Regions from separate parts of the Homo sapiens genome. Here region 2 is linked to region 1. Evidence: fine-mapped expression QTL. A gene starts in region 1. The other region holds a variant in brackets. All regions are shown on one strand. Distances are between the middles of the regions.

Region 1 (16,863 bases):
TATCTACCTTTGGTCTTTGATGATGGTGACATACAGATGGGGTTTTGGTGTGGATGTCCTTTCTTTTTGTTAGGGATGTGAAGGACCTCTTCAAGGAGAACTTCAAACCACTGCTCAATGAAATAAAAGAAGATACAAACAAATGGAAGAACATTCCATGCTCATGGGTAGGAAGAATCAATATTGTGAAAATGGCCATACTGCCCAAGGTAATTTAGAGATTCAATGCCATCCCCATCAAGCTACCAATGACTTTCTTCACAGAATTGGAAAAAACTACTTTAAAGTTCATATGGAACCAAAAAAGAGCCCACATTGCCAAGTCAATCCTAATCCAAAACAACAAAGCTGGAGGCATCATGCTACCAGACCTCAAAGTATACTACAAGGCTACAGTAACCAAAACAGCATGGTTCTGGTACCAAAACAGAGATATAGACCAATGGAACAGAACAGAGCCCTCAGAAATAATGCCGCATATCTACAACCATCTGATCTTTGACAAATCTGACAAAAACTACCCATGGGGAAAGGATTCCCTATTTAATACATGGTGCTGGGAAAACTGGCTAGCCATATGTAGAAAGCTGAAACTGGATCCCTTCCTTACACCTTATAATAAAATTAATTCGAGATGGATTAAAGATTTAAATGTTAGACCTAAAACCATAAAAACCCTGGAAGAAAACCTAGGCAATACCATTCAGGACATAGGCATTGGCAAGTACTTCATGTCTAAAACACCAAAAGCAATGATAATAAAAGACAAAATTGACAGTTGGGATCTAATTAAACTAAAGAGCTTCTGCACAGCAAAAGAAACTACCATCAGAGTGAACAGGCAACCTACAGAATGAGAGAAAATGTTTGCAATCTACTCATCTGACAAAGGGCTAATATCCAGAATCTACAAATAACCGAAACACATTTAGAATTAAAAAAACAACCCCATCAAAAAGTGGGTGAAGAATATGAACAGACACTTCTCAAAAGAAGACATTTATGCAGCCAACAGACACATGAAAAAATGCTCATCATCCCTAGCCATCAGAGAAATGCAAATCAAAGCCACAGTGAGATACCATCTCACACCAGTTAGAATGGCGATCATTAAAAAGTCAGGAAATAACAGGTTCTGGAGAGGATGTGGAGAAATAGGAACACTTTTACACTGTTGGTGGGACTGTAAACTGGTTCAATCATTGTGGAAGACAGTATGGCGATTCGTCAAGGATCTAGAACTAGATATACCATTTGACCCAGCCATCCAATTACTGGGTATATACCCAAAGGATTATAAATCATGCTGCTATAAAGACACATGCGCATGTATGTTTATTGAGGCACTATTCACAATAACAAAGCCTTGGAACCAACCGAAATGTCCATCAGTGATAGATTGGATTAAGAAAATGTTGCACATATTCTATGCAGCCATAAAAAAGGATGAGCTCATGACCTTTGTAGGGACACGGATGAAGCTGGAAACCATCATTCTCAGCAAACTATCACAAGGACACAAAACCAAACATCATATGTTGTCACTCATAGGTGGGAATTGAACAATGAGAACACTTGGACATGGGAAGGGGAATATCACAGTTCAAGGCCTGTCGTGGGGTGTGTGAAGGTGGGAGGGATAGCATTAGGAGATATACCTAATGTAAATGACGAGTTAATGGGTGCAGCACACCAATATGGTACATGTATACATACGTAACAAACCTGCACGTTGTGCACATGTACCCTAGAACTTAAAGTATAAAAAAAAGAAAAATAACTCCAGACTTAGAAGCTCACTCAAAACTGCACAACTACATGGAAACTGAACAACCTCCTCCTGAATGACTACTGGGTAAATAACGAAATTAAGGTAGGAATAAAGATTTTCTTTGAAACCAATGAGAACAAAGACACAACATAGCAGAATCTTTGGGACACATTTAGAGCATTGTTTAGAGGGAAATTTATAGCACTAAATGCCCACAAGAGAAAGCAGGAAAGATCCAAAATCAACATGCTAACATCACAATTAAAAGAACTGGAGAAGAAAGTGCAAACAAATTTAAATGCTAGCAGAAGACAAGAAATAACTAAGATCAGAGCAATACTGAAGGAGATAGAGACACAAAAAACCCTCAAAAAAAATCAATGAATCCAGGAGCTGGTTTTTCGAAAAGATCAACAAATTAGACCGCTAGCCAGACTAATAAAGAAGAAAAGAGAGAAGAATAAAATAGACACAATAAAAAATGATAAAGGGTATATCACAACTGGTCCCACAGAAATACAAATGACCATCAGTGAAAACTATAAACACCTCTACCTAAATAATCTAGAAAATCTAGAAGAAATGAATAAATTCCTGGACAGATACACCTTCCCAAGTCTAACCCAGGAAGAAGTCTAATCCCTGAATATAGCAATAGCAAATTATGAAATTGAGGCAGTAATTAATAGCCTACCAACAAAAAAAAGTCCAGGACCAGACAGATTCACAGCCAAAATCTACCAGAGGTACAAGGAGGAGCTTGTACCATTCCGTTTGAAACTATTCCAAACAATAGAAAAAGAGGAATTCCTCCCTAATTCATTATATGATGCCAGCATCATCCTGGTACCACAACCTGGCAGAGACACAACAAAAACAGAAAATTTCAGGCCAATACCCCTGATGAACATCAAGGTGAAAATCCTCAATAAAATACTAGCAAACCAAATCCAGCAGCACATCAAAAAGCTTGTCTGTCACGATCAAGTTGGCTTCATCCCTGGGATGCAAGGCTGGTTCAACATATGCAAATCAATAAATGTAACTCATCAGATAAACAGAACCAATGACAAAAACCACATGATTATCTCAACAGATGCAGGGAAGGCCTTTGATAAAATTCAACAGCCCTTCATGCTAAAAACTCTCAATAAACTAGGTATTGATGGAATGTATGTCAATATAATAAGAGCTATTTATGACAAACCCACAACCAATATCATACTGAATGGGCAAATGCTGGAAGCATTCCCTTTGAAAACCAGCACAAGACAAGGATGGCCTCTCTCACCACTCCTATTCAACATAGTATTGGAAGTTCTGGCCAGGGCAATCAGGCAAGAGAAAGAAATAAAGGGTATTCAAATAGGAACAGAGGAAGTCAAATTGTCTCCGTCTGCAGATGACATGTTTGTACATTTAGAAAACCCCATTATCTCAGCCCAAAATCTCCTTAAGCTGATAAGCAACTTCAGCAAAGTCTCAGGATACAAAATCACTGTGCAACAATCACTAGCATTCCTATACACCAATAACAGACAGAGAACCAAATAATGAGTGAACTCCTATTCACAATTGCTACAAAGAGAATAAAATACCTAGGAATAAAACTTACAAGGGGTGTGAAGGACCTCTTCAAGGCGAACTAGAAACCACTGCTCAAGGAAATAAGAGAGAACACGAACAAATGGAAAAACATTCCATGCTTATGGATAGGAAGAACCAATATCGTGAAAATGGCCATACTGCCCAAATGAATTTATAGATTCAATGCTATTCCCATCAAGCTACCACTGACTTTCTTCACAGAACTGGAAAATCTACTTTACATTTCATATGGAACCAAAAAAGAGCCCACATTGCCAAGAAAATCCTAAGCAAAAAGAACAATACTGGAGACATCATGCTACCTGACTTCAAACTCTACTACCAGGCTACAGTAGCCAAAACAGCATGGTACTGGTACCAAAACAGATATACAGTCCAATGGAACAGAACAGAGGCCTCAGAAATAACACCATACATCTACAACCATCTGATTTTTGACAAATCTGACAAAAACAAGCAATGGGAAAATGATTTCCTATTTAATAAATGGTGTTGGGAAAACAGGCTAGCCATATGCAGAAAACTGAAACTGGACCCCTTTCTAACACTTTATACAAAAAGTAACTCAAGATGGATTAAAGACTTAAACACAAGACCTAAAATCATAAAAACCCTAAAAGAAAACCTAGGCAATACCATTCAGGACATAGGCATGGTCAAAGACTTCATGACTAAAACAGCAAAAGCAATGGCAGCAAAAGCCAAAATGGACAAATGAGATCTAATTATACAACAGAGCTTCTGCACAGCAAAAGAAACTATCATAAGGGTGAAAAGGCAACCTACAGAATGGGAGAAAATTTTTGCAATCTACCCATCTGACAAAGGGCTAATATCCAGAATCTATAAAAACGTAAATAAATTTACAAGAAAAAAACAAACAGCCCCATCAAAAAGTGGGTGAAGGATATGAACAGACACTTCTCCAAAGAAAACATTTATGCAGCCAACGAACATATGAAAAAAAGCTCATCATCACTGGTCATTAGAGAAATTCAAATTGAAACCACAATAACATACCATCGCACGCCAATTAGAATGGTGATCATTAAAAAGTCAGGAAACAACGGATGCTGGAGAGGATGTGGAGAAATAGCAACGCTTTTACACTGTTGGTCGGAGTGTAAATTAGTTCAACCATTGTGGAAGATAGTGTGGGGATTCCTTAAGGATCTAGAACCAGAAATACCATTTGACCCAGCAATTCCATTACTGGGTATATACCCAAAGGATTATAAATCATTCTACTATAAAGACACAGGCACACATGTGTTTATTGTATCACTATTCACAATAGCAAAGACTTGGAACCAACCCAAGTGCCCATCAATTTTAGACTGGATAAAGAAAATGTGGCACATAGATACCATGGATTACCATGCAGCTATAAAAACAGGATGAGTTCATGTCTTTTGCAGGGACATGGATGAAGCTGGGAACCATCATTCTCAGCAAACTAACACAAGAACAGAAAACCAAACACCTCATATTCTCACTCATAAGTGTGAGTTGAACAATGAGAACACATAGATACACGGAGGGGAACATCACATGCTGTGGTCTTTCAGGGTTGGGATGCTAGGGGAGGGATAGCATTAGGAAAACTACGTAATGTAGGCGATGGGTTGATGGGTGCAGAAAACCTCCATGGCACATGTATACCTATGTAACAAATCTGGACGTTTTGCACAAATACCCCAGAACTTAAAGTATAATAAGGAAAAAATAAACACTTTATGTGAAAAAAAAATCCTTAGGAATATATCTAAACAAGAAGGTGAAAGACCTCTACAAGGAAAATTCAAAACACTTCTGAAAGTAATCATAGACGACACAAACAAATGGAAACATAACCCATGTCATGGACGAGTAGAATCAATATTGTGAACAGGATCATAATGCCAAAAGCAATCTACACATTCAATGCAATTCTCATCAAAATACTAATATCATTCTTCACAGAATTAGAAAAAACAATTCTAAAATTCATATTGAAGCAAAATAGCCCATATAGCCAAAAAGAATAAATCTGGAGGCATCATATTACCTGGTTTCAAACTATGCTATAAGGCAATAGTTACGAATACAGCATGGTACTGGTATTAAAATATACCCACAGACCAATGGAACAAAACACAAAATCAGAAATAAATCCAAATACAGCCAACTGATCTTCGACAAAGCAAACAAAAATATAAAGTGGGGAGAGGACACCCTTTTCAACTAATGGTGCTGGAATAATTGGCTAACCACATGTAGGAGAATGAAACTGGATCCTCATCTCTCACCTCATACAAAAATCAACTCAAGATGGATTAAGGACTGAAATCTAAGACCTGAAACTATAAAAATTCTAGAAGATAACTTTGGAAAAACCCTTATAGACATTGGCTTAGCCAAAGATTTCATGACCAGGAACACAAAAGCAAATGCAATAAAAACAAAGATAAATAGCTGGGACTTAATTAAACTAAAGAGCTTTTGCACAGCAAAAGGAACAGTCAGCAGAGTAAACAGACAACCCATACAGTGGGAGAAAATCTTCACAATCTATACATCTGACAAAGGACTAATATCCAGGATGTACGAGGAACTCAAATCAGAAAGACAAAAACAAACAATCCCATCAAAAAGTGGGCTAAGGACATGAATAGACAATTCTCAAAAGAAGATATACAAATGGCCAAGAAATGTATTAAAAAATGCTCAACATCACTAATTATCAGAGAGATGCAAATTAAAACCACAATTTAATACCACCTTACTCTTGCAAGAATGGCCATAATCAAAGAAATTAAAAAATAGTAGATGTTGGCATGGATGTGGCAAACAGGGAACACTGCTACACTGCTGGTAGGAATGTCAACTAATGGAAACAGTGTGGAGATTCCTTAAAGAACTAAAAGTAGAACTACCATTTCATCCAGCAATCCCATTACTGGGTATCTACCCAGAGGAAAAGAAGTCATTATACAGAAAAGATAGTTGCACACGCATGTTTATAGCAGCATAATTCGCAATTGCAAAAACGTGGAACCAACCCAAATGTCCATCAATCAATGAGTGGATAAAGAAGCTGTGAGATATATATATATATACACATATATATGTGTATATATATGTGTATATATACATATATATGTATATATATATATACACATATATATATGTGTATATATATATATGTATATATATATGGAATACTACTCAGCCATAAAAAGGAATGAATTAATGGCTTTTGCAGCGACCTGGATGAGATTGGAGACTAATATTCTAAGTGAAGTAACTCAGGAATGGAAAACCAAACATTGTATGTTCTCACTCATAAGTGGGAGCTTAGCTATGATGGATACAAAGGCATATGAATGATACAATGAACTTTGGGGTCTTGGAGGAAAAGGGTGGGAAGGGCTTGAGAGATAAAAGACTACAAATAGGGTACAGTGTATACTGCTCGAGTGATGGATGCACCAAAATCTCTCAAATCACCACTAAAGAACTTACTCATCTAACCAAACAGCACCTGTTCCCCAATAACCTATGGAAATAAAAAAAAAATTATAAAAAAATCTGTATAGGCATGTTAAAAAAAGGAAGGACAGAAATACCATTCAACTCAGCAATCCCATTACTGGGTATATACCCAAAGGAACATAAATTATTGTTTTATTAAAGACACATGCACACATATGTTAACTCCAGCACTATTTACAATAACAAAGACATGGAATCAACCTAACTACCCATTAATGATAGAATGGATAAAGAAAATGTGGTACATATACACCATGGAATACTATGCAACCATAAAAAATAATGAGATCATGTCCTTTGCAGGGACATGGATGGAGCTGGAGCCTATTATCCTTAGCAAACTAACACAAGAACAGAAAACCAAATGCTGCATGTTCTCACTTATAAGTGGGAGCTAAATGATGAGAACACATGGACACATAGTGGGGAACAACACACACTGGAGCCTACTGCAGAGTGCATGGTGTGAGAAGGGAGAGGATCAGGAAAGACAACTAGTGGGTACTAGGCTTAATACCTGGGCGATGAAATAATCTTTACAACAAGCCCCCATGACAGAAGTTAACCTATGTAACAAACCTGCACATATATCCCTGAACTTAAAAGTTAAAAAAAAAAAAAGATTCTTGTATCCCATCTCGGATCTACAGAATCACAATCTCAAAAATGAGCCGTAAGAACCTGCATTTTAACAAGCTCTACAATTATTGTGGTACATACTGATGTTTGAAAAGTACTGCCCTAGACACTCTTACCTCAGGCCGTTATAGTGAGTCCATACACTTAAAAATAAGCGTCTTTCCAAGTACTTTAAAGATTCAAAATGATAGTGGATCTGAAATGCCGCCTGAGTCCCCATGACAACGTGTACACTGTGGGGCCCAACCAATAAAGATAAGAAAAGCTTTGGCGGTCAAGCATACTTGGGAAGCTGCAGTTTCTAGAACAGTCTAGTAGAGGACAGCCTCTTCAGCAGCCTGCTAGGCATTTTTTTACTTCTTCCTTCTGTTATGCAGACAAGCTAACTGAAGATGCGGTTACTGAGATATAATTTCTCTGCTAGGTCACAAAGTCTGAAAACATGGGCCTTACGTGTGTAACTGTGTATCATCACCTGCCACCCCCAGTTTTTCCTGGCTCTACTAATCACCCAAAGTTCTGAATGCAGAAGCCCCAGGGGCCCCCGGAAGATCCTTCAAGCTGGCATCCTTGGCCTCGCTGCGGGGGCTTAGCTACCTGTGGGAACCCACGTAGCAAGGGTGACTCAAAGGGTTAACAAGCAGTGGCGCCGCAGAGTGGCGGGGAGTGCAGCCAATAGGGTGTCTAGGCAGGCAGTACGTCTGGTGTGGGCGGGAGTGAGCCAAAGTGTGCTAAAGGAAACCAACAGCGGCCTAGGGGTGAAAGGACAGCCAGGGTTAGATGTTCTGAGGAGGCGGGAGCAACCGAGAGAGCACGTGAGCATCTGTCCTTTCTACCCGTTCCTCTTTATCTTTAGTGTTCAGTAGCAGCGGGGATAGCCCGGGGCCCGGTGTATGGCCACGGAGTTACAGTGTCCGGACTCCATGCCCTGTCACAACCAGCAAGTAAACTCTGCCTCAACCCCAAGTCCCGAGCAGCTGCGACCTGGCGATCTGATCCTGGACCACGCAGGGGGAAACAGAGCCTCCAGGGCCAAGGTGATTCTCCTCACGGGGTACGCCCATTCTAGCCTGCCGGCCGAGCTGGACTCTGGGGCCTGCGGCGGCTCCAGCCTCAACTCAGAGGGCAACAGTGGTAGTGGTGACAGTAGCAGCTATGACGCACCAGCTGGCAACTCCTTCCTAGAGGACTGCGAACTCTCCCGGCAGATCGGGGCGCAGCTTAAGCTGCTGCCTATGAATGATCAGATACGGGAGCTACAGACCATCATCCGTGACAAGTAAGCCAAGAGCGGAAGGGGAAAGGGAAGTGGAGGGTCTTGCAGGCTGTGGGCGGGGATTGGAAGTAAAAGGGCTAAGAGACAGTGTTCTTGGCCTTGGCAAACTTTGGAGATTGGGGTAAGACCTTTTATTTGGTGTGTGTGTGTGTGTGTGTGTGTGTGTGTGTGTGTGTGTGTCGTGTAACTCGAACGCCAACCTTCTCTTTCCAAGTTCCGGTGTCTAACATCACTTTGGGTGGGGAGGAAGACTTTAGGTAGCCTCTGGGCTCTTTGTCTCTCCCAGGAAAGACAACTCCTTGGCCATTCCAGGCAGGTAAACTCCCCTATACTATGTGGGCAGTGCTTGTCCACATGGTAAACCTATAACCCAGAAATGGTTACTATCCAAGGTTATGCACTACCACCAATCACCTCAGGTTCATAAATAGAAATAAAGCAATTTCAAGGAAATTCTATTCAGGCCCTGACCCTTTAGTATTTGCTACTGCAAACAAGGTCTTTTAGTCTTGGAGTTCAGGTTTACTTGATCACATGAAAGCTTATCGTCCAACTCTTATCATTTTTCACTGTAAACTCACAGAACATAGTTAATGGATCAAAGGGAGCCTAAAGGAGCCTTTGGCCCTTCCTAATCCCACAAACCAATGTAGCCAGAACTTCATGTTAAAATGTAATTTTGAAATTTCTAAACCTACGTTGTAAATGGGTTTTCTCCAGGGAAATATGTACCATGATGAACTACAGCTATTTTCTTTATTGGCAGCACTTTAAATGAGCAGCATATCAAAACACCCCTTTTTTAGTGGCAGGGGTTGGGGGGACATGCCTTGATCTTTTAAAAATGGCTACTGAATGACAGATGCCACTCCCTAAACCAGACTCTAGAAACCTTGTCTTACACTATTGTAATAATACTGTTTCTCTGCTTGCAGTTTTTCCTCTCTTCCACATGCACCCATACATTACTGTACAATCAATCTTCATAACATACATCTTTGATTCAGTAATTGCCCTACTCAGCAACCTTCTTTGGCTTCTCAGAGCCTACCAAATAAAGTCCAGGATCCTTAGCTTGATTGATATTTTTGAGACAGGATCTTTCTCTGTCACCCAGGCTGGAGTGCAGTGGTGAGATCACAGCTTACTGTACCCTCATACTTCTGGGCTCAAGTAATCCTCCTGCCTTAGCCTCCTGAGTAGCTGGGACTACAGGGACATGGCACTGCCCCCCGGCTAATTTTTTATTTTTTTGTAGAGATGGAGGTCTTGCTATATTGTCCACGATGGTCTTGAACTCCTGGCCTCAAGCAATCCTCGTGCCTCGGCCTCCTAAAATGTTGGGATTACAGGTGTGAGCCACCATGCCTGGCCCCCTTAGCTTGGGATGAAGGCCCTTCTTCATAGTTCCTAGGAACAATTCTGAAACATATCTGTTTCTGCTCTCATCTGGAATTCCCTGTGTCTCCTTTATGTACGTTCAGGATACTTATTCTTCAGGGTGAAACACAGCATTAAATAATTGTCCACCTCTGCCAAGAAGCTTCCCTTTAATCATTATTCCTGGCTTATCTTCCCTGGTCTTTTTAATGCAAGATTCACCTTCTTTTTCGTATATTGTTATTTTTGTATAGATCTTATCCTGCCTATGACATCTTGAAGGCAGAAATCTTTTACATTTTTGAATGCCGGCCATGCCTTGCAAATAATAGATGCTCAATTACTAGAGTTTTTTTGTAGCTCTTAAAATTATATTTATGAAACTATACTATTTTACTCTTTTTAATGAATCAATATTGAAAACTACTGTGGTTATGTTATCTAATAGACAAAATAGTGATCCTAAAAAATAGGAGGCATAGGTTTGCTGTAGTTGTGGTAGGGTAGGGGCAGCCAAAATAAATCTTACATATACAACAAAGAAAAATAGATGATGATTCTTGTTTCTATAGAGCAGAAGTTACTACGCTTGGGTCTTCGACTCCCTCGTACCAGTAGATGGGTTCAGGGCTTTAACAAACCCTCATAAATTAACTGGGAAATTTTACTCATATGAAGATTTTTAATAGTTGTTTTTAAATAACATCTTTATTGAGATATAATTCACAGACCATACAGTTCAAGAATTTAAAGTGTATAATTCAGTGGTTTTAAGTATGTTCACAGCTGTGCATTCATCACCACAGTTTTAGAACATTTGTCATCACCCCAGCAAGAAACCTCATGCCCATTAAACAGTCACTCCCCATTTTCACCCAACCCACCCAAAGCCCTAGACAATCATTAATCTACTTTCTATTTCTAATGGTTTGCCCATTCTGCACATTACATATAAAAAATGTCTATTCTGGACATTTCATTATCATACAATATGTGGTCATTTTGTGACTCATTTCATTTAGCATGTTTTCAAGGTTCATCCGTGTGGGATCTTTCCTTTTTATGATTAAATGATACTCCATTATATGAATATACCACAATTTGTTTATCCATCAGTTGGTGAACATTTGGGTGGTTTACCACTCTTTGGCTATTATGAATAATGCTGCTATGAACATTCACATATGTGCCTTTTTTTTTAGAGGGTGAGGATTCCTTAGTTTTTTAGATTTCACAAAGTGTCATGATAATGTAAAGGTGAAGTGCCCTTGCTATAGCGCTTGGAGAGGGAATGGCATTTAGCATTCACATATGACAAAATAATACCTGATTATATGTCATTAGTCAGAAAAACCTGGGTTATGTAGTAAACCTGGGTGTAAGTGGAATCCTTTTTTTTTTTTCCTCTAAGTTTGGAAGGAGACAGCAGGATCCAGAGAAGTGATTTAGGCAATATGTTTAGCATCTCTGTGCTTCACCTTTATCATTTGTAAAATGAAGATGTTGGTAAATATCACATGGAGCCCCTGGGAGGCTAAAACAAGATACTGTTCATGAATATTCATTATGAACTGTGAAGAGCTGTTCACATTTAAGGAATTTCAAGCCTCATGTTTGGATTTGTGCATGCTTCTAATTGCATTCATAAGTGCTGTCTTCTTGATTTGTCAGAAGACAGTAAAATGAATTTAACTCTATGTGGAATTCACTTTTTTATCTTGAAAATGAATACTGGGATATTGTAGATAATTTTTATCTTGTTTTGATATAGTATGGAAAGACCCACCACAATTTTTAGTAATGTATTGCTGCTTATTTAGGCTGGGGACATTGTTTTTAGTTTTGTTTTTGTTAACCAAATTAGAGGCTTTATATTCCCTTTATCTTTAAAAAATTGTCATCCTCTCTCACAAGACCTGTTTTAGCCCCTCTAGGAGGCTGGTTTAAGGTGCCTATGGTAAGAGGAGCTATATTTACATAGGTCTAGTTATGGAAGGTGCCATCAGTTATCATACCCTGTTCTCTTTGGGGCTTATTCTCTTCTCTATTTTGATGTGACAGCATAAATGTGCACTGTGGAACTGTCCGATAATAGAAGCCACTGGAGTACATATTTTTTCTTTTATTGTTTCTGGTCCTTAGCATCTATATAGTGAAGGGATTGCTTTGTGAATTGACTTTGGTATGGGGAAATCGGGATTGAGCCAGCAGGACTGCATGTTGTTGTATATATGTGAAACAGGCAAGATTGAGAACATTGTCTGTATTGATTTAAAATGTCTTTTTAGATTTTGAAATGTGCAATATTTGAAACATAATATGTTGGTTGTATTATTGAATTTCAAGGAAATAAATTTCTCTCTTTGAAAGTGCAGTAAACACTGAGTAGATTATTTGCTCAGCCATACGTATGTGGGTTGCTGGTGAACTTGGGATAAGAAAAAATTTCTTCATTTATGTCGTTTTGTTGTTGTTGCAATGGATTAAACCACACATCCTTCTCTTCTGCCTCCTTTATATACTAAACTCAGCAAAATCTGAGTAATGTGCTTTTCCTGTGAATATAGTTCATGACCTCATATTTAAAGGCAATGCAGTGTATTTAAAAGATCATCCTCCCTGTCCAGTTTTTTGTTTTTTATTTTTTGTTTCCTGAAACATTAAAGCTGTTGTGTGAGCTGTTGAATGCTTCCTGTGTATTTGTCCTAGGTGGGGCTTTGGCATGGCCTCAGCAAGCTGCTTGTTTAAAAGTTTAGCAATGTTAGAGTATGTCAGTATGTGACATAGGACAAAAAAAGGAGCACATTCAGCCTTGTGACTCTCTTTAGTCACCTGGAGGGGAGAAAATTATCCTTAGGGTGAATGAACATCCTGTGTAACCCTAATGTGAGTGCAATCTAATGTGATTTGAGTTATGTGACTAAGTAATGTATTGTCCTTAACCAAAGCTGTGTGCATCAGAATTGCCTGTGGAGTCTCTCTCTCTTTTTTTAAAATACAAGTTCCTGACTCCCATCCTTAGCAGTTGTTTGTATAGTCTTGAGTAAAACCTGACCACAGGTAATTGTGCTGTGTTTAGACTGGGCCATTGCCCCTGGGAGAATGGCCAGTCTCCCTTGTGTGCTGATTTGCTAGCCTGCTGATTCGGGCTATAGATATGGTGATCCAGGGATTCCACACACTAAACAGAACTAGGCTAGAGAGCCTGACCTAGCATTACATCAACACTGGAGGAATCTCCCAACATTTCCTTCCAGCTTGCACAAAACCAAAATGCCCACCGCAGAAAAAAACTGTGACGTGCAAATTGTTTAAAACATGGACATATTTTCGGTTTTTGTGTGTTTCCCGTGTGAGTCCTCTGACTTTTAGAGCAGGAAGGAGGAAGTCACCACTAAGCTATACGGACCTCTGTTATAACATTTACTGGGCATATCCTGGTATACCTAACTAGACTGGACTCCAAGGAGGCAGAAAGGGGGTCTGACCTGGCACAGTCCCTGACACAAAGGATAATTAATGTAGCAATTGTAATCAGATAAAATGATAGTTTCCCTTGTTTTTCTGTCCCATTTTTTTGCAATAATTTCAACATTTGTTTTATTTTTTTAAAGCTTTCAGGTTTCACTTATTTATTTTTTTCCATAAGTTATTGGGGTACAGGTGGTATTTGATTACATGAGTAAGTTCTTTAGTGGTGATTTATGAGATTTTGGTGCACCCATCACCCAAGCAGTATACACTGCATCATATTTGTAGTCTTTTATCCCTTGACCCCCTCCCACCCTTTCCTCCCAAGTTGCTAAAGTCCATTATATTATTCTTATATCTTTGCATCCTCATAGCTTAGCTGCCACATACTAGTGAGAACATATGATGTTTAGTTTTCCATTCATGAGTTACATCACTTAGAATAGTAATCTCTAATCTCATCCAGGTCACTGCAAATGCTGTTAATTCATTTTTTTAATGGCTGACTAGTATTCCATCATATATATATATTTGATATGTATTCCATCATATATATATATTTGTTGGCCATTTGTATATCTTCTTTTGAGAATTGTCTATTCATGTCCTTAGCCCACTTTTTGATGGGATTGTTTGTTTTTTTTTTTCTTGCTGATTTGTTTGAGTTCCTCGTAGATTCTGGATATTAGTCCTTTGTCAGATGTATAGATTGTGAAGATTTTCTCCCACTATATGGGTTGTCTGTTTACTCTGCTGACTGTTTCTTTTGCTGTGCAAAAGCTCTTTAGTTTAATTAAGTCCCAGCTATTTATCTTTGTTTTTATTGCATTTGCTTTTGTGTTCCTGGTCATGAAATCTTTGGCTAAGCCAATGTATGTAAGCCAAAGTTATCTTCTAGAATTTTTATAGTTTCAGGTCTTAGATTTCAGCCCTTAATCCATCTTGAGTTGATTTTTGTATAAGGTGAGAGATGAGGATCCAGTTTCATTCTCCTACATGTGGTTAGCCAATTATCCCAGCAACATTAGTTGAAAAGGGTGTCCTTTCCCCACTTCATATTTTTGTTTGCTTTGTCGAAGATCAGTTGGCTATAAGTATTTGGGTTTATTTCTGAGTTCTCTGTTCTGTTCCATTGGTCTTTGTGCCTATTTTTGTACCAGTGCCATGCTGTTTTGATGACTGTGGCCTTATAGTATAGTTTGAAATCAGGTAGTGTGACACTTCCAGGTTTGTTCTTTCTGCTTAGTCTTGCTTTGGCTGTGTGGGGTCTTTTGTGGTTCCATATGAATTTTAGAATTGTTTTTTCTAATTCTGTGAAGAATGATGGTGGTATTTTGATGGGAATTGCATTGAATTTGTAGATTGCTTTTGGCAGTATGATCATTTTCACAATATTGACTCTACCCATCCATGAGCATGGGATGTGTTTCCATTCATTTGTGTCATCTATTATTTCTTTCAGCAGTGTTTTGAAGTTTTACTTGTAGAGGTCTTTCAACTCCTTAGGTAAATTCCTAAGGATTTTATTTTTTTTGGCAGCTATTGTAGAGGGTTGAGTTCTTGATTTGATTCTCAGCTTGGGTACTGTTTGTGTATAGAAGAGCTACTGATTTGTGTACATTAATCTTGTATCCAGAAACTGCTGAATTCTTTTATCAGTTCTAGGAGCTTTCTGGAGGAGCCTTTAGGGTTTTCAAGGTAAAAGATCATATCCTCAGCAAACAGTGACAGTCTGACTTCCACTTTATCAATTTGGATGCCCCTTATTTCTTTCTCTTGTCTGATTGCTCTGGCTAGGACCTCCAGTACTATGTTGAAGAGGAATGGTGAGGGTGGCATCCTTGTCTTGTTCCAGTTCTTAGAGTGAATGCTTTGAACTTTTCCCCATTTAGTATTATGTTGTCTGTGGGTTTGTCATAGATGGCTTTTATTACATTAAGTTGTGTCCTTTCTATGCTGATTTTGCTGAGAGTTTTAATCATGGAGGTATGCTGCATTTTGTTGAATGCTTTTTCTGCATCTATTGAGATGATCCTGTGATGTTTGTTTTTAATTCTGTTTATGTGGTGTGTCACATTTATTGACTTGCATACATTAAACCATCCCTGCATCCCTGATATGAAACCCACTTGATCATGGTGGATTATCTTTTTGATGTGCTGTTGGAATTGGTTAGCTAGTATTTTGTTAAGGATTTTAGCATCTATGTTCATCAAGGATATCAGTCTGTAGTTTTCTTTTTTGGTCATATCCTTCCCTGGTTTTGCTATCAGGGTGATGCTGGCTTCATAGAATGAATTAGGGAGCATTCCCTCTTTCTCTGTCTTGTGGAATAGTGTCAAAAGGAATGTTTTCAATTCTTCTTTGAATGTCTCATAGAAGTCTTCTGTGAATCTATCTGATCCTGGACTTTTTTTTTGTTGGTAATTTTTAAATTACCATTTCAGTCTTGCTGGTTGTTATTGGTCTGTTCAGGGTATCAAATTTTTCCTGATTTAAGCAAGGAGGGTTGTATTTTTTTCAGGAATTTATCCATCTCTTCTGGGTTTTCTAGTTTATGTGTGTAAGGGTGTTCATAGTAGCCTTGAATGATCTTTTGTATTTCTCTGGTGTCAGTTGTAATATCTCCTGTTTCATTTCTTAGTGAGGTCATTTGGATTTTCTCTCTTCTTGGTTAATCTTGCTAATAGTCTATTAATTTAATTTATCTTTTCAAAGAACCAGCTTTTTGTTTCATTTATCTTATATTTTTTTTTTTGCTTCAATTTCACTTAGTTCTGCTCTGATCTTGGTTATTTCCTTTCTTCTGCTGGATTTGGGTTTGGTTTGTTCTTGTTTCTCTAGTTCCTTGAGGTGTGACCTTAGAATGTCAGTTTGTGTTCTTTCAGTCTTTTTGATGTAGGTGTTTAGGGCTGTGAACTTCCCTCTTAGCACTGCCTTTGCTGTATGCCAGAGGTTTTGGGAGGTTGTGTCATTATTTGGGAGGTATGTGTCATTCAGTTTGAAGAATTTTTAAATTTCCATCTTGATTTTGTTTTTGACCCAGTGATCATTCAGGAACAGGTTATTTAATTTCATGTATTTGCATGATTTTGAAGGTTACTTTTGGAGTTGATTTCCAGTTTTATTCCACTGCGGTCTGAGAGAGTGCTTGATATAATTTCAGTTTTCTTAAATTTATTCA
Region 2 (16,863 bases), 490 kb before region 1:
CTGGGCTGCAATAAGGGATCACTAGATCCTTGCTGCTTGATTCCCTCAAAAATATTTCATTTGGTGAATCTGGGACACAGATTTATATAGTTTATACTTGGAAATGGCTGGGGGAATGTAGGTTCAATTATCATTTAAGTTTGTTACATTTTACTAATTGCCTTTATATACTTCCTCCGCCAAAGCCAGTCTGCTGTAATTATTCCTGGGCATTCGTTTGGGAACTTCACCAAAATACCAAAGGAAAATAAAATCTAACCACATTCAAGTGATGTAATTGCTACTGGTCTTTGTATCAAACACAGATAAAGGTTAGGTTTTTGTCTTTCCTAATGTTAACTTTAATCAGTGTTCAGATGAACTGAACCTAAGCAAATGTGGGTCTATAAATAGGCCTGGAACTCTATATACCACATGATCTAGTTGGAGGCATGGTTCATGGATGTAATAAAAATTGTGTGCCTTTTGACATTTGTTGACTAATCTGATAAAACCATCTTACTGTTTTTTTTTTTTTTTCTTAGAGATGGGGTCTGGCTCTGTCACCCAGGCTGGAGTGCAGTGGCATGAATATGGCTCACTGGGCTTTACCTCCTGGGCTCAAGCAATCCTCCTGCCTCAGTCCCTCCCGGGACTACAGGCGTGTGCCACCATGCCTGGCTAATTTTTTTTTTTTTGTATTTTCTCTAGAGATGGGGTTTCGCTATGTTGCCCAGACTGGTCTCTAACTCCTGAGCTCAGGCAATCGGCCCGCTGTGGCCTCCCAAAGTGCTGTGATTACAGGCATGAGCCACTGCGCCTAGCCCCATCTTAAAATTTTCACAGCACCTTATAGGCTATAAAATATTTCATATCTGTTATTTTATTTGATCTGTACAACAAAGCTATGAAGCATGTATTATCTCTTCTAGGGAAGATGAAACAAACTCAGTCAGAGAAGTTAAGAAACCTACCAAAGCCTCAAGGCTAGGAAGTGGTAGAAACAAGACATGAATCCAAGGTGCAGAGAAGTTGGGCAGGGAAGGGAGAGTACAGCACAGTGGGGGCCCTGGGGACTCACCTGAACATGAGCTGTGTGATAGGTACTGTCAGATGAGACAAATATGAGTGATTATCCTTACCCTAAAGGTACATAAATGTGTGAGAATATAGAAAGCCTGGGCAACTGTTAAGTCCAAAATGAGGTCTTCAGACCTATGGTCCTTCCATTATTCCACACTGCCTCCCACAGTTCTGTTGCTAGGGCCCAGCTCCCACTTACCACATTCTAGCTCTTCTCCTTTTAGCTTTCAGAGGCCAGCTTTTGGCATCGTTACAAAGTAGACTTTGATAAAGTTTCACTGCTCTCCGGAGAAATAGTAAGAGAATGTTAGCTGGAAATGAATATTGAGAGAGGTTGCTACGATCTCCTTTAGAGAGAACTGAATCAGGTTAGTGGCATAAATCGATGAGGGCAGGAGTTTTGTATTTTTGTCTATTGCCAAATGTGCAGTTGGTATGGAACAACAAACCATAACGTTTGAAAAAGAGAGATCAGAGGAAGAGTGGAGGGAGAGGTGAAGGAGGAGAAGAGGGAGAAAGAACAAGAGGGAAGCCTTAGGTTTCCTTAGGTGTATGTGAAGCCTTAGGTGTATGTGAAAGCCTTAGGTGTATGTGAAATTTATACTAAGATTTTCCCTCTTACCAGGGTGTGGTGTAGCTCAGTTTCGTGGAGGCCAGTGGTTTATGTGTATGTGAAATGTATGTGAAAGCCTTAGGTGTATGTGAAATGTATACTAAGATTTTCCCTCTTACCAGGGTGTGGTGTAGTTCAGTTTAGTGGAGGCCAGTGATTTATGTGTATGTGAAAGCCTTAGGTGTATGTGAAATTTATACTAAGATTTTCCCTCTTACCAGGATGTGGTGTAGCTCAGTTTAGTGGAGGCCAGTGGTTTATGTGTATGTGAAATGTATGTGAAAGCCTTAGGTGTATGTGAAATTTATACTAAGATTTTCCCTTTTACCAGGGTGTGGTGTAGCTCAGTTTAGTTGAGGCCAGTGGTTTTTCAATATTTGATATTCTGGAGGACAAGACAGGAACTGACTGACTGAATGACTGACTGAAAATTTGTTAAGTCCTCACAATATAGGGAACTAACCAGATGACACAGACATCTGAAGGGCTGGATGGTAGGCAAGAACTTGAGAGACCTGAACAAAACAGTAGCTGAATGACAGTGTTTCCCAGAGGATAAACCCAGAGATTTAAAAGGATGAGGGGTTGGTGGTTTAAGGACTCATACTCTCTCTCAGGAGCTACATTTACTTTAAACTTCTCTGAGTTAGAGTGCCAGAGAGACCTCTGGAGTTGGCAGCTTCTTCTAGGCCAGGCAAAATCCTTATTACCATGAAAAAGAGTTCTGAAATGCTTTCAAACTTGTAAGAGAGTTCCCTTTGAGCTCAGGTTTGGAAATTTGGCAACTAACATTAAATGCTAGTGAGCAAGTTAGAATATCTTAATAAAATATACTTCACATTCAGAGTTGACCAAATCAAGAGGCAGGAGGTTCAGGGTCTTAGGTCCCTGCCATGATTTCAAACTTCCAAAAGAGCCAGTAGACCAGAAAGCCCTAAGTCCTCCCTACTACAGACCCTTCCTTCATATAAGGCCTTCTGTATGGGGCCCTTACTTCCTGCTACAACACATTCCAACATTTCTGTATGGTTTTCAAGACTTGCCCCAAACAATTCTTGCTGCCCTGGTTCTTAGGCTTGGCCTCATTACTCTACAGACCATGTTCTTCCTCCCACCCTCTTTATGTGCTTTCACTGCTAATTCTGGAATACCCTTCGCTCTGCATTTCACTTAGTAACATTATACTCATTTGTCAAGGTCTACCTCCTCCTTAAAGCCTTTCCTGATTATTAGAGACTTAGCTAATTTCCTTCCTTCTGAAGAGTAAATGCTATCTGGCCTGGGTAAGGGAGGCAGTGTGGTGGAGAATTTAAGATAGCAGTACAGGACTAGAAGAAGATTCAAGTTCTAGGCCTTCCAGTAATTAGAGTAAATGAGAGGCAGTTATCTAAGCTTCAAGCATTTGTTTGTTTTCTATTCTATTTCATCTTTATTATTCATTGCTTGCCTGCTATATGTAAGTTGTTGATGAATCCTATCTAGATCTTGCCATTGAGGATCTTAGAGTCTAATAAATGATATATATATAAATAATTAGAATAAAAATAGGAAAAATGGTTAAAAACCACGAGAGCATCATGGAAAGTTCCTTAAGAGGTCAGAGGAAGTTAAAATTAATCTCTCTGTAGAAAATAGCATCTGAGCTTGGCCTCGGAGCATGAATGAAAATATGTAAGAATAAAATAATAAATAAGAAAGTGTTAGAAAAGTATAGAATGTGATACAAATGCAAGGGCTAGTATTTTAAATGGGGTGAAATGTAGGAGCTGTTTTAAGAAAAGATAAGGTAGGGAAAGGAGTGATTCCATCCCTCAATTCTAGGCAAAACCTGCCAAATACTTTATTTCAAAAGAAGCAATGAGTTCCCTTGATGGCAGGGCCACCATTTAATCTCTGTCATTTTCTGCTAGCACATTAAAGAGCCTACATTACATTGTATATGAAGTTTTTAGGGCCACCTGGAGCAGAGGGCTCAGAAAAAGTCTCAGATAGGGCTCAATAAAGTCTGGCAGCAGAGGGTCAATTTGAGGAGAACCATTGACATGGCTCCAACGTAAAGGGTAAAAGAACATACCAGGTAGACAAATGAGCCAGCTCTAGCTTACATGCAGAATAAAGGCAGCTGCCTTAGGCCCCATTCATGAGTTTGGGGAGAGCTACAGCAGCTCTGGGGGTATAAAGCAGACAAAGAGGCTTACAGCAGCTAAAATGCTATTAACAAATACTCCATTACCAAAGTTCCATCAGGAGGTTTATTGTCCATCTGTAAGATATGCCCACTTTCTCAAGCTGTTCTCCAGTCTACTTGGTGCCATTACCACCTGAGTTCAGGCAGTACAGGCTACCCTTGGCAAATGCTTTCAGTAGTTTTAGGTATGAGTATGTGCACTTCCTCAGGATGTTCCCCTCCACATCCTAGCATACAATGCCTGAGCTTCCTTTCTATAGTCATTTCCGTCATCCTTAGAGGGCAAATTTTTATAAAATGATTGGGCTAGGCTGGGCATCTAGTGCAGTATTTAGCTCAAAATCGTATTTCAATAGTATTTAGGTTCACATAAATTCACTTCAATTCAATTCAGACTAAAATTCACTGTTGGTATTAGTTACCACGATTATAGTATAATTAACCATAGTCTTTCATTGGGACTTGCTCAGGGTTTTCTAGGAAGCACCTGCCTATGCCTTCTGCAAAGGCTCAATTCTGCACTTTCCTTAAGAGGATCACATCCTTGCCAAAACTCCACAGTGCGTAGTGAAACAATTTGGCTTATGCAAAAATCCCAAGAAATATATAGCTATGATAAGAAAGTACAATGTGAAACTGATGAGGGACAGAATGGTAGTGGTGACGAAATTATCTCTAATCATAGAGAAAAATAAAATCCTCAGTGGGATTGTTTACAGCTTCCCCATTCATTGCCCTGGAGAGTTGTCTTAGATACTTCCATTCTTACTGCACTTAATCACACCCCAGAATAGCTCTAGCTCTCTTTACTCATATGTATAATAATCCCTCACATTTAATGTACTGCTTTATACTGTGTGTATGTATATGCAATATTTTATATATATATATATATACACACATACAATAATTTAATACCTATCTGTGAAAGAAAGAGTTAACCCAGCAGTCTTGAGTTGCTCAAATCGTATACATTTTTAGAAGGGCCCACTTGTGTGACTGGTCCTTGGCCAGCTCCTGGGAACTGAGGTCTTAGAATGTTCTCTATTCTAGTAACTGGTAAGGGCATTGTGTATGCCCTTTCAACCATGCTGTAACAGCCTGTCTAGGTATCTTGTGCAAAAAATATGATTTATGGTGAATGCATGCTTTCTTTCCAAGGGATATGGAGTTTCAGTCACTAGTTACCCCAATAAAAATCCTGGAGTTTCAGGCTCAAGTACGCTTCCCCGGCAGAAAACACTTTGCATATGTTTCTGAACTTCATTGTTGGAGGATTAAGCACAACCTGTGTGACTCTATTGGGAGAAGACTCTTGGAAGCTTGCACCTGGTATCCTCCGGTCTCTGACTGATGTACGTTTTCCCATTATTGATTCTGCTTTCTGTCCTTTTGATATAATAAACTGTAGCCTGATTGTAACAATTTATGAGTCCTGTGAGTCCTTCTAGCAAATCAGTGAACCTGGGGATAGTATTGGGGGCCACCAGTACATTGCTTTACAATGTCATTATGAGGATTACCACCTCCATTTTACATATAAAGAAACTGAGATCAAATGGCTTGAGCTGGAAGTAGAATTCAGTTCTTTCCAAATCCCATGTTCTTTCTACTATACTGAACTGCTCCCTATATAATCTTTTTTTGTGGTTAAGGGGTAGATAAAATGGTATCAGAGGTACCTTTTAGCTCTGACAGACATTAACTGTTTATGTCTAAAGTCCATATGAAAAAAAGGAGGATGTAAAACTAAAAAAAAAATTTTTTTTCAAGTTATCTCCACTCATTCCCCCTTTGCATAGTTCACTTCTATCTTAGGGTGTCAAGGGCTCTACTGAAACTCTACAAGAATGCATAGGCAAGGAAAATTACACTTTAAAGAATGATTAGTTCTATTATGCATGCCTTCCCCCAGGCATTCTGCTTAGTCTCTGACAAATAAAAACTGTACACATGGATTTGAGAAAGATCCTGGTTGGGTTTGTTCAGTGGCATTATTAGGGTAAAGATGAAAGGCAAAGTTTATAGCCTTGTCTGACCTGGCCTTGCCAACATAACCTTGCTGTGCTCCAAACGCCTAAAGGGCTGGCTTTGTCACTCAACACTCTGCATTCATCTGTGTAGTCTGTCTGACTAAGCCATATGTCCTGAGAATGGTGGAGGAAGAGACTGTGCTTAGATAAGGTAATAGACAAAACTTATGAAATAAATCTGCTTTCATGAAATTTGGTGTTTATGAAATATATGTTTTATATTTTATAGAGAACACTAAAGCAAATGAATGAGTTAGTCTACAGCCTTGCTTTTATCCCCAACACTAAAATCTCATTCGGTGGGTTTTAAGGCCCTGGGATGAGCTATTTTTTGTCATGGTGGGCCAGATTTTCCACTGAGCGAGGGAAATGGGCAGGCACCTGCCAGTGTAGCAATCAATCTTATCCTTGGCAATGGCTTCCTAGAGGGTTTTTCTGCTCAGGGTTTGGAATCAGCAAGTCCAGTTGTACTATAATGTGTGGGAGTTTTCATAGATTTATATCACACAGAAAAGAAGACTGATTGTCTATGCAGAGAATGTTGGGTTGGTTGTACAGTGTAGTGTGGAGGGTGGGTATACAAGTTGTCTTTTCAAGAGCTGGAAAAAACCCTTGATAAAGTGCTTAAAAAAGAGATAAACACACCAAGATTGGTTTTTATCATACATGGAAGGGAATATCTAAAGAGAAAGGAAGAAGAGGCAGATCAATTACCTACAGAGATACTTTCTGGCACAGACTAGCACACAGCATATCACATTAATAAAACTGAGCTCTGCAAGAAAAAAGGTAGACCATTCTCCCTCATTAAAAAGTTCCAGTTTTAAGCAACTATTACTATTCTGAATCCAGCACATTCCCCCACACACAATCACCACACACCTAGCCAAATGAGCACATGACATTCCTAAACTAAGGACACTCTTTAACCTAGCCTCCACTTACAAACTCAAAAAGGCACATATTGACTAAATGATTCTGACAGGAGAAGGGGAAAATATGTAGAATTTAGAGGCCAAAGAGAAGTAGATAACTGAAAACAAGGTTGTACACACACACACACACACACACGTGAGCACATGTGCATGTGCGTGTGTGCACACACACACACACACCCCTATCACTAGTCCCTCCCATGCCCTAAATTACATCAACTGTTTTCAGTTAGGCTAAGCCCCTTCCACTGGAGAAAAATAAAGATTGAAGCTATGGGCCGGGCACAGTGGCTCACGCCTGTAATCCCAGCATTTTGGGAGGCTGAGGCGGGCAGATCACGAGGTCAGGAGATCGAGACCATCCTGGCTAACATGGTGAAACCCTGTCTCTACCAAAAATACAAAAAAAAAAAAAAAAAAAAGAAAAAAAATTAGCCAGGCGTGGTGGTGGGTGCCTGTAGTCCCAGCTACTCGGGAGGCTGAGGCAGGAGAATGGCGTGAACCCAGGAGGCGGAGGTTGTGGTGAGCCAAGATCACGCCACTGTACTCCAGTCTGGGCGACAGAGCGAGATTCCATCTCAAAAGAAAAAAGAAAAAAAAAAAAGATTGAAGCTATGGGAATGACAGTGTCCCTTCTCTACTTGATCAATACCTTCTTTGGCTACTGTTAAGATGCACTCTCC[G/A]TGACCAGTAATAATAAAGCAAGACCTACATAGCTAATTAGTTGTTACTTTTTGGTCTGGGTTTCAGTTTCCCCAATTGTAAAATGAAGGGTAGAAACTGGACCTCCCACCTCAGGTCATATCCTATGATTCCCTGACTCTATTACAAACCATTGCATGTGTCACATGACAGATGCCAAGGATGCCTTCAAGCCTTACTTCTTACATACAGGCCCACACATACACATGGGGCCTTTCTTTTTGACTCTGACAGGCAGGGGAGCCCAGAGGGTTGAGACTTTCTAAATGCAGATAAATAAGCTGAAAAGATTACAATGAGTAGATTCTGTTTTCCCCAGCTTACCTCTTTGGGCGAGAGAGCTGTGCTGAGATGCAAGGGCAAGGTTGAAAAAAACCTGACAACAGTTATGGTGACAATGTTTTGATGATTATTGGTTTCTGCACTGCTGGGAAGAGAGAGTACACTCCTCAAACCTTGAAAGTACACTCCTCAAACCTTCCTTTAAGCTTTGAACCAGAGCAACTGCAGATGATTTCTAGGGTAAAGGTAAAGCCACCTCTATAACTGAGGTTTGCTGTCCCCTGGTACATACCAAAGGATCTGGATCCAGAGCACCAGAGTCAATCATGAGTACCAGTTGGAACCCAAAATAGTAACATCTACTGAATGTGCCAGTATTTACTTGGTAAATTGAAATAATGTGGATTTTATGAGGGTGAGGAATTACCCTATAAAATCGTTCAATCTGGAATCAAGTATTTTCTGTAACTGCTACACCAAAAATTAAACAAGTAGATAATAATAAATTACCCACCCACTAAGTTCTGAGGAAAATACTGCATCACTTCAGAGACTAAATATCTACCTCTCCTGATCAAGGTAAACAGATTGTATTTTTAAGTCAGATTTATTAATGTATGATGCCACCTAATATCAATAGTATTTCATATTCTATTTGGTTTGATCATTAATAATCATTCATATTTGTATGATGTTAAACTTATAAAGTCCTTCAATATATTTCACATTATGTATCTTAGGTTGATCTCTGACAACAGCCCTGTGAGCATGAATGGGCAGGTATTATCCTTATTTTAAAGATGATGAATATGAGGCCAAGAGAGTTGGGACAATAGATGGCTGGCATTAGAACCCAGGAATCAAGGTTCTATGCTTCCTTTACTTTGCAATGAGGTCAGCAAGGGGCACAAACATGACATGATGTTGCTTACCCCATTTCAGGTCAAAACTCATTATCTAACCTAAAGTTTACCATTACACAAATTTAGCTGTTGGGATACTTGCCAACATGAAACCCAAGCCTAACTTCCTGAAGCAGTATAAAGGTACATGCCAGGAGTCATAAATCAGGTATTTTATTTCCTGAGTGTGGCTAGAATATCCCTTTGCCAAGAAAAGGGAAGGGGGTAGAGTGATATAATTTTCAGTCTCCCACAATCTCCCAGACTTCCAGCTCAGAGTGCCAGCAAGTACCCCGCCATCTAATGGTCATTTGCAGAAACTTCATCTTCCAGGTAGGAGAAGAAGACATCCCATTGATATTCTTTTATTTATTTATTTATTTATTTATTTTTATTTTTTATTATACTTTTAAGTTTTAGGGTACATGTGCACATTGTGCAGGTTAGTTACATATGTATACATATGCCATGCTGGTGCACTGCACCCACTAACTCATCATCTAGCATTAGGTATATCTCCCAATGCTATCCCTCCCCCTCCCCCCACCCCACCACAGTCCCCAGTGTGATATTCCCCTTCCTGTGTCCATGTGTTCTCATTGTTCAATTCCCACCTATGAGTGAGAATATGCGGTGTTTGGTTTTTTGTTCTTGTGATAGTTTACTGAGAATGATGTTTTCCAATTTCATCCATGTCCCTACAAAGGACATGAACTCATCATTTTTTATGGCTGCATAGTATTCCATGGTGTATATGTGCCACATTTTCTTAATCCAGTCTATCATTGTTGGACATTTGGGTTGGTTCCAAGTCTTTGCTATTGTGAATAATGCTGCAATAAACATATGTGTGCATGTGTCTTTATAGCAGCATGATTTATAGTCCTTTGGGTATATATCCAGTAATGGGATGGCTGGGTCAAATGGTATTTCCAGTTCTAGATCCCTGAGGAATTGCCACACTGACTTCCACAATGGTTGAACTAGTTTACAGTCCCACCAACAGTATAAAACTGTTCCTATTTCTCCACATCCTCTCCAGCACCTGTTGTTTCCTGACTTTTTAATGATTGCCATTCTAACTGGTGTGAGATGGTATCTCATTGTGGTTTTGATTTACATTTCTCTGATGGCCAGTGATGATGAGCATTTTTTCATGTGTTTTTTGGCTGCATAAATGTCTTCTTTTGAGAAGTGTCTGTTCATGTCCTTCGCCCACTTTTTGATGGGGTTGTTTGTTTTTTCCTTGTAAATTTGTTTGAGTTCATTGTAGATTCTGGATATTAGCCCTTTGTCAGATGAGTAGGTTGCGAAAATTTTCTCCCATTTTGTGGGTTGCCTGTTCACTCTGATGGTAGTTTCTTTTGCTGTGCAGAAGCTCTTTAGTTGAATTAGATCCCATTTGTCAATTTTGGCTTTTGTTGCCATTGCTTTTGGTGTTTTAGACATGAAGTCCTTGCCCATGCCTGTGTCCTGAATGGTAATGCCTAGGTTTTCTTCTAGGGTTTTTATGGTTTTAGGTCTAACGTTTAACTCTTTAATCCATCTTGAATTGATTTTTGTATAAGGTGTAAGGAAGGGATCCAGTTTCAGCTTTCTACATATGGCTAGTCAGTTTTCCCAGCACCATTTATTAAATAGGGAATCCTTTCCCCATTGCTTGTTTTTCTCAGGTTTGTCAAAGATCAGATAGTTGTAGATATGCGGCGTTATTTCTGAGGGCTCTGTTCTGTTCCATTGATCTATATCTCTGTTTTGGTAACAGTACCATGATGTTTTGGTTACTGTAGCCTTGTAGTACAGTTTGAAGTCAGGTAGTGTGATGCCTCCAGCTTTGTTCTTTTGGCTTAGGATTGACTTGGCGATGCGGGCTCTTTTTTGGTTCCATATGAACTTTAAAGTAGTTTTTTCCAATTCTGTGAAGAAAGTCATTGGTAGCTTGATGGGGATGGCATTGAATCTGTAAATTACCTTGGGCAGTATGGCCATTTTCACAATACTGATTCTTCCTACCCATGAGCATGGAATGTTCTTCCATTTGTTTGTATCCTCTTTTATTTCATTGAGCAGTAGTTTGTAGTTCTCCTTGAAGAGGTCCTTCACATCCCTTGTAAGTTGGATTCCTAGGTATTTTATTCTCTTTGAAGCAATTGCGAATGGGAGTTCACTCCTGATTTGGCTCTCTGTTTGTCTGTTGTTGGTGTATAAGAATGCTTGTGATTTTTGTACATTGATTTTGTATCCTGAGACTTTGCTGAAGTTGCTTATCAGCTTAAGGAGATTTTGGGCTGAGACAATGGGGTTTTCTAGATATACAATCATGTCGTCTGCAAACAGGGACAATTTGAGTTCCTCTTTTCCTAATTGAATACCCTTTATCTCCTTCTCCTGCCTAATTGCCCTGGCCAGAACTTCCAACACTATGTTGAATAGGAGTGGTGAGAGACGGCATCCCTGTCTTGTGCCAGTTTTCAAAGGGAATGCTTCCAGTTTTTGCCCATTCAGTATGATATTGGCTGTGGGTTTGTCATAGATAGCTCTTATTATTTTGAAATACGTCCCATCAATACCTAATTTATTGAGAGTTTTTAGCGTGAATGGTTGTTGAATTTTGTCAAAGGCTTTTTCTGCATCTATTGAGATAATCATGTGGTTTTTGTCTTTGGCTCTGTTTATGTGCTGGATTACATTTATTGATTTGTGTATATTGAACCAGCCTTGCATCCCAGGGATGAAGCCCACTTGATCATGCTGGATAAGCTTTTTGATGTGCTGCTGGATTCGGTTTGCCAGTATTTTATTGAGGATTTTTGCATCAATGTTCATCAAGGATAGTGGTCTAAAATTCTCTTTTTTTGTTGTGTCTCTGCCTGGCTTTGGTATCAGAATGATGCTGGCCTCATAAAATGAGTTAGGGAGGATTCCCTCTTTTTCTATTGATTGGAATAGTTTCAGAAGGAATGGTACCAGCTAATCCTTGTACCTCTGGTAGAATTCGGCTGTGAATCCATCTGGTCCTGGACTCTTTTTGGTTGGTAAGCTATTGATTATTGCCACAATTTCAGATCCTGTTATTGGTCTATTCAGAGATTCAACTTCTTCCTGGTTTAGTCTTGGGAGAGTGTATGTGACGAGGAATTTATCCATTTCTTCTAGATTTTCTAGTTTATTTGCATAGAGGTGTTTTTAGTATTCTCTGATGGTAGTTTGTATTTCTGTGGGATCAGTGGTGATATCCCCTTTATCATTTTTTATTGCGTCTATTAGATTCTTCTTTTTTTCTTTATTAGTCTTGATAGCGGTCTATCAATTTTGTTGATCCTTTCAAAAAACCAGCTCCTGGATTCACTGATTTTTTTGAAGGGTTGTTTGTGTCTCTATTTCCTTCAGTTCTGCTCTGATCTTAGTTATTTCTTGCCTTCTGCTAGCTTTTGAATGTGTTTGCTCTTGCTTTTCTAGTTCTTTTAATTGTGATGTTAGGGTGTCAATTTTGGATCTTTCCTGCTTTCTCTTGTGGGCATTTAGTGCTATAAATTTCCCCCTACACACTGCTTTGAATGCGTCCCAGAGATTCTGGTATGTTGTGTCTTTGTTCTCATTGGTTTCAAAGAACATCTTTATTTCTGCCTTCATTTCGTTATGTACCCAGTAGTCATTCAGGAGCAGGTTGTTCAGTTTCCATGCAGTTGAGCGGTTTTGAGTGAGATTCTTAATCCTGAGTTCTAGTTTGATTGCACTGTGGTCTGAGAGATAGTTTGTTATAATTTCTGTTCTTTTACATTTGCTGAGGAGAGCTTTACTTCCAAGTATGTGGTCAATTTTGGAATAGGTGTGGCGTGGTGCTGAAAAAAATGTATATTCTGTTGATTTGGGGTGGAGAGTTCTGTAGATGTCTATTAGGTCTGCTTGGTGCACAGCTGAGTTCAATTCCTGGGTATCCTTGTTGACTTTCTGTCTCGTTGATCTGTCTAATGTTGACAGTGGGGTGTTAAAGTCTCCCATTATTAATGTGTGGGAGTCTAAGTCTCTTTGTAGGTCACTCAGGACTTGCTTTATGAATCTGGGTGCTCCTGTATTGGGTGCATATATATTTAGGATAGTTAGCTCTTCTTGTTGAATTGATCCCTTTACCATTATGTAATGGCCTTCTTTGTCTCTTTTGATCTTTGTTGGTTTAAAGTCTGTTTTATCAGAGACTAGGATTGCAACCCCTGCCTTTTTTTGTTTTCCATTTGCTTGGTAGATCTTCCTCCATCCTTTTATTTTGAGCCTATGTGTGTCTCTGCACGTGAGATGGGTTTCCTGAATACAGTACACTGATGGGTCTTGACTCTTTATCCAATTTGCCAGTCTGTGTCTTTTAATTGGAGCATTTAGTCCATTTACGTTTAAAGTTAATATTGTTATGTGTGAATTTGATCCTGTCATTATGATGTTAGCTGGTTATTTTGCTCGTTAGTTGATGCAGTTTCTTCCTAGTCTTGATGGTCTTTACATTTTGGCATGATTTTGCAGCGGCTGGTTCCGGTTGTTCCTTTCCATGTTTAGTGCTTCCTTCAGGAGCTCTTTTAGGGCAGGCCTGGTGGTGACAAAATCTCTCAGCATTTGCTTGTCTGTAAAGTATTTAATTTCTCCTTCACTTATGAAGCTTAGTTTGGCTGGATATGAAATTCTGGGTTGAAAATTCTTTTCTTTAAGCATGTTGAATATTGGCCCCCACTCTCTTCTGGCTTGTAGGGTTTCTGCCGAGAGATCCGCTGTTAGTCTGATGGGCTTCCCTTTGAGGGTAACCCGACCTTTCTCTCTGGCTGCCCTTAACATTTTTTCCTTCATTTCAACTTTGGTGAATCTGACAATTATGTGTCTTGGAGTTGCTCTTCTCGAGGAGTATCTCTGGGGTGTTCTCTGTATTTCCTGAATCTGAAGGTTGGACTGCCTTGCTAGATTGGGGAAGTTCTCCTGGAGAATATCCTGCAGAGTGTTTTCCAACTTGGTTCCATTCTCCCCGTCACTTTCAGGTACACCAATCAGACGTAGATTTGGTCTTTTCACATAGTCCCATATTTCTTGGAGGCTTTGCTTATTTCTTTTTATTCTTTTTTCTCTAAACTTCCCTTCTCGCTTCATTTCATTCATTTCATCTTCCATTGCTGATACCCTTTCTTCCAGTTGATCGCATCGGCTCCTGAGGCTTCTGCATTCTTCACGTAGTTCTCGAGCCTTGGTTTTCAGCTCCATCAGCTCCTTTAAGCACTTCTCTGTATTGGTTATTCTAGTTATACATTCTTCTAAATTTTTTTCAAAGTTTTCAACTTCTTTGCCTTTGGTTTGAATGTCCTCCCGTAGCTCAGAGTAATTTGATCGTCTGAAGCCTTCTTCTCTCAGCTCGTCAAAGTCATTCTCCACCCAGCTTTGTTTCGTTGCTGGTGAGGAACTGCGTTCCTTTGGAGGAGGAGAGGCGCTCTGCATTTTAGAGTTTCCAGTTTTTCTGTTCTGTTTTTTCCCCATCTTTGTGGTTTTATCTACTTTTGGTCTTTGATGATGGTGATGTACAGATGGGTTTTTGGTTTGGATGTCCTTTCTGTTTATTAGTTTTCCTTCTAACAGACAGTACCCTCAGCTGCAGGTCTGTTGGAATACCCTGCCGTGTGAGGTGTCAGTCTGCCCCTGCTGGGGGGTGCCTCCCAGTTAGGCTGCTCGGGGGTCAGGGGTCAGGGACCCACTTGAGGAGGCAGTCTGCCCGTTCTCAGATCTCCAGCTGCGTGCTGGGAGAACCACTGCTCTCTTCAAAGCTGTCAGACAGGGACATTTAAGTCTGCAGAGGTTACTGCTGTCTTTTTGTTTGTCTGTGCCCTGCCCCCAGAGGTGGAGCCTACAGAGGCAGGCAGGCCTCCTTGAGCTGTGGTGGGCTCCACCCAGTTCGAGCTTCCCGGCTGCTTTGTTTACCTTATCAAGCCTGGGCAATGGCGAGCGCCCCTCCCCCAGCCTCGCTGCTGCCTTGCAGTTTGATCTCGGACTGCTGTGCTAGCAATCAGCGAGACTCTGTGGGCATAGGACCCTCCAAGCCAGGTGCGGGATATAATCTCGTGGTGCGCCTTTTTTTAAGCCCGTCGGAAAAGCGCCATATTCGGGTGGGAGTGGCCCGATTTTCCAGGTGCCGTCCGTCACCCCTTTCTTTGACTCGGAAAGGGAACTCCCTGACCCCTTGCGCTTCCCAAGTGAGGCAATGCCTCGCCCTGCTTTGGCTCATGCACAGTGCGCGCACCCACTGACCTACGCCCACTGTCTGGCACTCCCTAGTGAGATGAACCTGGTACCTCAGATGGAAATGCAGAAATCACCGTCTTCTGTGTTGCTCACGCTGGGAGCTGTAGACTGGAGCTGTTCCTATTCGGCCATCTTGGCTCCTCCCATCCCATTGATATTCTATTTTCCGTCCACATGGAATATGGTGTGAGAGTGATCACTATTTCAGTCCAGCTCAGGAACAGATATTCTACTGCACCATACATACATACTCAACCCAGACTTCTTGGAAAGGAATTGTGTTAAAAGTTAGACCTACCATATGATACAGCAAATACACTTCTAGGTATTTACCCAAGTGAATTGAAAATTTACATCCACACAAAAACCTGCTTGTGGATGTCTCTAGCAACTTTATTCCTAATTTCTCAAAGCTAAAAACAATCAAGATGTCTTTCAACAAGAGAATGGATAAACAAGTATTCTTACAATGGAATACTATTCAGTGTTTAAAAGGAACTACTTACATAAAAGGAGCTATTGATTCACACAACATGAATGAGTCTTAAATGCATTTTGCTAGGAGACAGAAGCCATACCCAAAGACTACATATTGTATTATTCCATTCATATGACACTCTGGAAAATATAAAACTATAGGGATGGGATACTTATCAGTAGTTTCTGAATATTAGGGGTGGGGGAACTGGTTGATAACAGAGGGGATTCACAGAGGAATTTTGAGAGTGATGGAACTCTTCTGTATGGTATTGGGGTGGTGAGCACATGACATTATGCATTTGTCAAAACCTATAGACCTGTAATTTACAAAGAATGAGCCTTAACATATGCAAATGCAAACATCAACCAGATGTCAGAGGATCCCAGGATGAAATGCAGACTGTGACAAATGAATCTAACTGTATTACAAATGTGTGACATAAGTGCACTGAGGAAGGGGGTACGAAGCTGATTTAACTTTGAAAAATTGTGTTTTAGCTAGAAAGTATAAAGATAAAAGACAAATAACCATACATAAACACTGTACTGTAGTTGATAAAGCTGTTGTCATGGTGGTATAGATGAACAATTGTGAGACTGGTTTGAATGTACTGGGTTTGAACAAGTAAGTAAATGGATGGTGGGTAGTGGAAGCTAAGTTTGTCATTGTTATAGGGGGAAGTTACAGATAAAAAGAAAGGAAGGCTAGAATGAACCCTGTAGTATTGGATTAGAGTTAGAGACATCAATATAAACTCATGTTTAGCTTTATATATATTATATATATATTTATATATAATATATATATTATATATATACATATATATTATATATATTATATATATACATATATATTATATATATACATATATATTATATATATATACATATATAATATATATATATATACACATATATATTATATATATTATATATATACATATATATTATATATATTATATATATATACACACACACACACAATGGATAGACACACAAATGATTATAGATATATATGTATACAAAGGTTAGTACATAAACAAACATATATTACCCAGTTATGTCCACTGAGAAAGTCTGGAAGCAATGATAGCTTGGTAAAAATGACCACTCCTAGATCTTGGTTTCTAAATAACATTTTCCAATAAAAGGAACCAGAGTTATTTGGATAAATGGTTCATTCTAGGGCTAGGTCAGGGAAAACACAAGATGAGCCTGGAGTATCTTGTAGTACCAGAAAATTAGCAAGTACTAAAAAGATAAAAGGAAGAGGGCATGTGTTTAAAGGGACGCAGGAACCAACCTGAAATAATTCCTAATGGCTAAAGCAGGAGCATTTGAGTAACAAAATAGATAAGGTAGTATCGGATTAAAGCCCAAAGTATAAAATAAATAAATA

Direction of the effects. Alleles are on the strand shown, and positions count from the first base shown. SD is a standard deviation of normalised expression in the study named.
For the expression in prefrontal cortex of the gene that starts at base 8,276 in region 1, A is the high allele of the variant in region 2 and G is the other (moderate effect, 0.71 SD a copy in GTEx).

The links. PIP is the estimated chance that this variant, and not a neighbour inherited with it, causes the effect.
Region 2: its variant is the best candidate, but not a certain one, in a credible set for the expression of UPRT in prefrontal cortex (GTEx, PIP 0.59).

The regions. Positions count from the first base shown.
Region 1 is chrX:75,265,810-75,282,672 of GRCh38, forward strand. UPRT (uracil phosphoribosyltransferase homolog) reads left to right here and starts at 8,276. Exons shown (of 7, transcript NM_145052.4): 1 at 8,276-8,831. The coding sequence starts at 8,446. LOC124905200 (a long non-coding RNA gene) reads right to left here and starts at 8,227. Exons shown (of 4, transcript XR_007068269.1): 1 at 7,669-8,227. RefSeq lists enhancers at 8,167-8,216, 8,237-8,286, 8,447-8,656.
Region 2 is chrX:74,779,872-74,796,734 of GRCh38, forward strand. The region is part of intron 1 of NEXMIF (neurite extension and migration factor); the gene reads right to left. Among named protein-coding and RNA genes, the nearest start is that of NEXMIF, 140 kb to the right of the region's middle. The variant G/A (reference allele first, on the strand shown) is at 7,515.